2 separate regions of the Homo sapiens genome follow, and region 1 is reported to be linked to region 2. Evidence: microRNA targets listed by miRTarBase, many of them from high-throughput screens and not tested one by one. Region 2 holds a microRNA gene; the other region holds the end of a gene's coding sequence.
What was found. The annotated mature microRNA hsa-miR-6819-3p reads AAGCCUCUGUCCCCACCCCAG and lies in region 2 at 1,028-1,048, shown strand. An mRNA with a match to its seed (bases 2 to 7 or 8) in the 3' UTR can be bound and repressed. Matches are read on the target gene's strand: a 7mer-m8 pairs with bases 2 to 8, a 7mer-A1 pairs with bases 2 to 7 and ends in A, and an 8mer does both.

Region 1 (3,000 bases), not on the chromosome of region 2:
AATTAGGAAACTGGGACTCAGCATGATTAAAGCTGTAGGTCACAGAGCTACTAAGCGTAAACTAGTAAACTAGGAATCAAACCCATGCAGTCCGACTCCAGAGCCTCACCATTACTATACCTCCTATATCTGAGTAAGGAGGAGGAAAAGCCATTTTTAGCTGTACTTCTTTGAAACAGAGGGAACTCCTTCCAAAGGTCCTAGAGCAAAGTTGCTGTAATTATTATCCCATAATTTTCTAAGATCCAAGCAATACTACTGTGGCACGTTACTTGGCATGTGGTATCTGACTTGCCAACAGCTTCAGGCTAAAGAGTTAGTTAACCTCCTAAGGCCAGTTTGTCTAATGTACAACCTCAGATGCGATGATAGAATGGCTTGCGAATGTTGAAAGCATCATAATTCTGGAGCACTCCTGGTAACTTCTGTTCTTTCTTCTTTTTCAGAACCCAGCAAGCGTAGTCGAGGAGCCCTGGGGTCCATCGCCCTCCTGGGCTTGGTGGGCACAACTGTGTGCTCTGCTTTCCAGCATCTTGGTTGGGTTAAAAGTGGCTTGGGCAGTGGACCCAAATGCTGCCATTAAAGAATTATAGGGGTTTAAAAACTCTCATTCATTTTAAATGACTTACCTTTATTTCCAGTTACATTTTTTTTCTAAATATAATAAAAACTTACCTGGCATCAGCCTCATACCTAAAACTCCTGACTCTTACCACTCATTTCCGTTTGAGTCTGTATCTGAAATCAGTAGCCTAGTCCTACTAGATGAGAAAGGAGCCACAAGTATTGTGCCCTCTCCTCACCCTTCCAGCAGATGCTTCTGTAGTATGTGAGGTTGAGAAAAAGTCTGATTGTGGTGATGTAGGTATAGTCATGCCACAGTGATGAAAAATTAAAGAAAAATCTTCTAGCTCTCAGGATATGCATTATCACTTGCTACAGATACTCCAAGGCCAAAGGAATGCTTGAGCCTAAAAGTTCAAGACCAGCCTGGGCAACATAGCAAAACCCCATCTCTACAAAAAAATATACAACAGTTAGCCAGGCATGATGGCACATGTCTGCAGTCCCAGCTACTTGGGAGGCTAAGGTGGGAGGATCACTTGAGCCCAGGGTGTCAAGGCTGCAGTGAGTTATGATCACACTGCTGCACTCCAGCGTGGGTGACAGAGCAAGACCCTGTCTCAAATAAATAAAAATTAAGTTTCTATTAAAGATTGTTTCTGTTGCTTAAAAACTGAAGCAATAGACTAAATGTAAGATGAAGGTTAACAGAGATGAATGTAACTTGCTACATTTAGAAACAAAGATCTGATTGCCTACGTACAAATGAGGAAGACTTAGAAGATTTCAGTTGGTTTAGAGAACACTGCCAAGTTGGCAGAATGAGATAGTTACTCCAAAACACTGATGTGGCCATAAACTACCTTAATAGGAAATATAGTGTCTAGACCTGCGCTGCCCAATTGGCCACATGTGGCCATCTAAATTTAAATTAATTTAAATAAAAAAGCAGTTCTTCAGTTGCACTACCCATTTTTCAAATGCTCAATAGCCTGTGAGGATGAGAGACAGTATTTGAACCCAGTCCTGACTCTAAAATCCATGCATTTTCCATTGTACCAGTTTATTGCTTAAGCTCCGAAGATGAAGCATTTAAGGATAGAATGCCATGGCCAGCCATTGAAGATGGTCAGCCTTGGCCAAATGGCCACCTGGAGCCCTTGGGGCATTTGATGAGGAGGCTGGACCAGTTTAGCACACACTCCAGTGTTAGTTCATGAGAAAGTTTCACCAGTGGAGAGCAAAATAAGGAAAATGAGGGACTGTTTTTCATAAAGCTTTGACTTGTACTTTTTACATTAAAATGTTCTTTATGAAATGATGGTGACGATGAATGGTAGGGATTTTTGGTCCTGGCTTGAAAAAATGATATAATTGAGAATTTACAATAAGACAGGGTTTTGGTTTTTGCTTCATAAGAAACACATCTAGAGAGGCCAGAGAACTTGCCGAGGTTTCCTTTCTCACTGCAGAGAACAGCAGGCATCAGTGAAGCAGGGCAGGGAAGACCTGGAGATGAAGCTGGCTTTTCACCTTTAAAAGTCTTAACAGGGTGTACTTTTCAAACTACAGATGGTCCCCAACTTATGACAGTTCAACTTAACAATTTTTCAACATTACGATGGTGCAAAAGCAAGACTCAGGCTGAGCATGGTGGCTCATGGCTGTAATCCCAGCTCTTTGGGAGGCTGAGGCGGGCAGATCACCTGAGGTCAGGAGTTCGAGACTAACCTGGCCAAAATGATGAAACCCCATCTCTACTAAAGATACAAAAATTAGCTGGGTATGGTGGTGCATGCCTGTAATCCCAGCTACTTGGGAGGCTGAGTCAGGGGAATCGCTTGAACCCAGGAGGCGGAACATGTAGTGAGCCGAGATCACACCACTGCACTCCAGTGTGAGTGACAGAGCAAGACTGTCTCAAAAAAAAAAAAAAAAAAAAGCAATATTCATTCAGTAGAAATCGTACTTTGAGTACCAATACAATCATTCTGTTTTTGACTTTCAGTATTCAATAAGTCATATGAGATATTCAACACTTCATTATAAAAGAGGCTTTGTGTCAGATGGTTTTGCTCAACTGTCGGCTAATGTAAGTGTTCGGAGCATGTTTAAGGTCACTAGGCTAAGCTATGATGTTCAGTAGGTTAGGTGTATGAAATGCAATTTCAACTTACAATATTTTCAACGTGTGCTGGGTTTCTCAGGATGTAGCCCCATCATAAGTTGAGCATCCGTAATGTGATCCCAGTTTGTCATTTTGCTATTGCGCACTGGGTTCAGATGGAGTTTTGTAAGGAAGCTCGGTACATAAAGGGCGCTGTGGTTGAAGTGCAGAACCGAGAGCTCTGCCTTTCAGTGCCCTACTTCCCCACTCACTGCACTTCCAGGGAACCCTAGGGCTTGGCAGAATCCAGTTGGTAAAGACTGCTTAGA
Region 2 (3,146 bases):
CCAAGAAGCAGCCCGGAGTGTGGGACACATACTTGGAAATCTTCACCTCACTAATAATTAAAGAATAATTAACACGTAAAAACAGCTCTGATACGCCATATCATGTAACAAGAATAACCTTAGTTTAACAAATTTTTTTTTGTTTGTTTGTTTGAGACGGAGTCTCGCTCTGTCGCTCAGGCTGGAGTGCAGTGGCATGATCTCGGCTTGCTGCAAGCTCCGCCTCCCGGGTTCACGCCATTCTCCTGCCTCAGCCTCCCCAGCAGCTGGGACTACAGGCGCACGCCGCCACGCCCGGCTAATTTTTGTATTTTTAGTAGAGACGGGGTTTCACCATGTTAGCCAGGATGGTCTCAATCTCCTGACCTTGTGATCCACCCGCCTCGGCCTCCCAAAGTGCTGGGATTACAAGCATGAGCCACTGCGCCCGGCCAAAAAAAAAATGTTAAGTGTAAAAAAAAAACCCACAAAAACTTTAAAACTTCATTGTGGTCAAGGTTGTGGGCATAGATGCTCTGATTGCTGGTGGCATTTTTTTACTGGTGTGGTCGGGCTGCACACAGCCAGTCACTCTCTTTGATTTGGGGAATCTCAATTTCGGATTTATCTGCAAAAGGAAAAAAAGGCTATTTGACAAAGGTCTTTAGTGTTAAAAGAAGTAACAGGAGAATAACAAAAGGAAAGGTGTTTCCTGCCTGTGGTGGGGATGGACCGGCAGGCTGGGCACTGGTTTTGAGTGGCAGGTGCGCATTAGGGGTGGCACCATGGGCACTGGCTTCCGGCCCACAGGAGGGGACAGAAAGTAGAAAATGAAGCTCAGCTTGGGCTCACGTCCACGGTGACGAACACTGTCAAAGTGTGCATTACGGGGTGGGATACACAGATGATTGTCTTTAGTTGCCTTTTTGCCCTGTCACCACGGTTAGTTGGTTAAATACAGCATTGAGTGGAGCACCAGCCATGAGCCCTGTTGGCGAGGTGACCCATGAGGGTTGGGGTGGAGGGCCAAGGAGCTGGGTGGGGTGCCAAGCCTCTGTCCCCACCCCAGGCCCAGATGAAGGACTGCATGCGCGAGCTGGATGACACCCGCGCCTCTCGTGAGGAGATCCTGGCCCAGGCCAAAGAGAACGAGAAGAAGCTGAAGAGCATGGAGGCCGAGATGATCCAGTTGCAGGAGGTGGGTGGGGCTGCAATGGAGAGCGGCACCGCTGCCCTGCGGCCAGCAGGTGGCAGCGTGGGGCTTTCAGCTGAGGACAGGGCTGGAGTCCTACTGGGCTCCAGGAATTGGCTGGGGATGGCTCTCAGGTTACATAAGGATTCCCTCCAGGGTTCCGTTTCATAGCGGGGCTCCCTCGTATGATCAGAGTGTGTGTGTGTGTGAAACTGGCATCCCTCACATGAGATGAGGCTTTGTGGCCACCACCACCTCCTGCTGTGAATGCTGCCTGGTGAGAAGGGGTCTGAGCGTCCCCTCGGCCGCCCTGCCCGTCGCACCTGAGCCCGTCCTGAAGTGTTTCCCAGGTCTGGAGGGTGCCCTGCAGCGTGATGTGCCGGCTGCGAGTGCGTCCAGGGTGTAGCCATCTGCCTGTGGCCTCCAGAGCTGACTCCAAGCTCTGGCTTACCCAGAACAGGGAGGGGCCGCCCTGAGTGACTCTGTCCACGTGGTCTCCCTGGTTAGGCCAGGACACTTCTTACTTATCGCCATACCCTGGCACCTGGCTTGATTCCTAGCACTTAAATGTAAGAGTTTTATAAACATATGGTGTTTAAGCTATATCTTCAGGGGGGCACCAGCCCTGTGAGCTAGAGGGTTTCTGGAGGAAGGGCTTCGTGGGGAGGTGGGCCTGGGGAAGGGCTTGAGGGGAGGGTGCCTGGGGCTGGGAAGGATGGTCTTGTGGGGCTGTGGCTGCCTTTAGGTCACACTCTGGGTCTTTGTGGCAGGAACTGGCAGCCGCGGAGCGTGCCAAGCGCCAGGCCCAGCAGGAGCGGGATGAGCTGGCTGACGAGATCGCCAACAGCAGCGGCAAAGGGTGAGCTGAGTGAGGGGGCAGAGTTGGGGGGGACCAGGTGTGTCCCCAGGGTAGGCCCCTCACTTCTCCCGCCCACCCCGCAGAGCCCTGGCGTTAGAGGAGAAGCGGCGTCTGGAGGCCCGCATCGCCCAGCTGGAGGAGGAGCTGGAGGAGGAGCAGGGCAACACGGAGCTGATCAACGACCGGCTGAAGAAGGCCAACCTGCAGGTGGGTGCCAGGACTTCTCCCACTCTGGGCTCTGGCTGGAGCCACCACGGCAGAGCTGGCCTTGGACCCAGCCGGCAGAAGCACAGGCCAAGTGCCAGCTGCTCCCCAGGCGCTTAGGGGAAAATGTCCAGGCACCTGGACCTGAAAGGTCCCCCTCTGGCTTCTGTGTTGGGTGTTCAGAAGTTTCTAATCTTCCCTTTTCTGGGAGACCCAAGACTCTGGACCCCAAGGGTTTGGTGGGATCCTGCTGCCACCTTCCTCTGGCCCTGCTCATGCCCTCCAGCCAGGGCCCCAGCCCTCCCCAAGGTCACTGGCCCTTCTTCTGCAGATCGACCAGATCAACACCGACCTGAACCTGGAGCGCAGCCACGCCCAGAAGAACGAGAATGCTCGGCAGCAGCTGGAACGCCAGAACAAGGAGCTTAAGGTCAAGCTGCAGGAGATGGAGGGCACTGTCAAGTCCAAGTACAAGGCCTCCATCACCGCCCTCGAGGCCAAGATTGCACAGCTGGAGGAGCAGCTGGACAACGAGACCAAGTACGTGCCCCTGGCCCCGCCCAACCCCAGCTGTCCTGGAAAAAACTCTGGCCCCCCTGCAGTCCTGCCCAAATCTGGGCCACAACCAGCTCTCTGTCTCCTGAGCCTGGGGCTGTTTCCCTCCCTCCTGATGGGGCCCTCATCCCTTCCACAGGTTGGGTGGTTGGGGGAGCTTGTGGGGTTTGAACAGGATTCTCTGTTCCACCTCTAAAGCCAGGAGTTTTGGTGGCTGTGTCTGAGAGTGAATCAGAGCAGGAGGTACAGGGGGGTCCTGCCCACTAGGACAGTTGTCCTATGGGCTCAGCAGGACTGAGACTTCCTTGGAGGGAATGGGGTTTACAGTAGGCCCCCAGACCTCTTTTCCAGTTACAT

Region 1: miRTarBase lists MGST3 as a target of hsa-miR-6819-3p. Seed matches in the 3' UTR shown: 7mer-A1 at 1,082-1,088.

What each region holds. Positions count from the first base shown.
Region 1 is chr1:165,654,922-165,657,921 of GRCh38, forward strand. It overlaps MGST3 (microsomal glutathione S-transferase 3), which reads left to right. Exons shown (of 6, transcript NM_004528.4): 6 at 447-1,215. The coding sequence ends at 583. Among named protein-coding and RNA genes, the nearest start is that of MGST3, 25 kb to the left of the region's middle. RefSeq lists a silencer at 2,145-2,311.
Region 2 is chr22:36,284,749-36,287,894 of GRCh38, reverse strand. It overlaps MIR6819 (microRNA 6819), which reads left to right and starts at 988; the gene lies at 988-1,048. MYH9 (myosin heavy chain 9) reads left to right here. Exons shown (of 41, transcript NM_002473.6): 35 at 1,049-1,177; 36 at 1,942-2,030; 37 at 2,114-2,237; 38 at 2,566-2,774. RefSeq lists an enhancer at 987-1,499.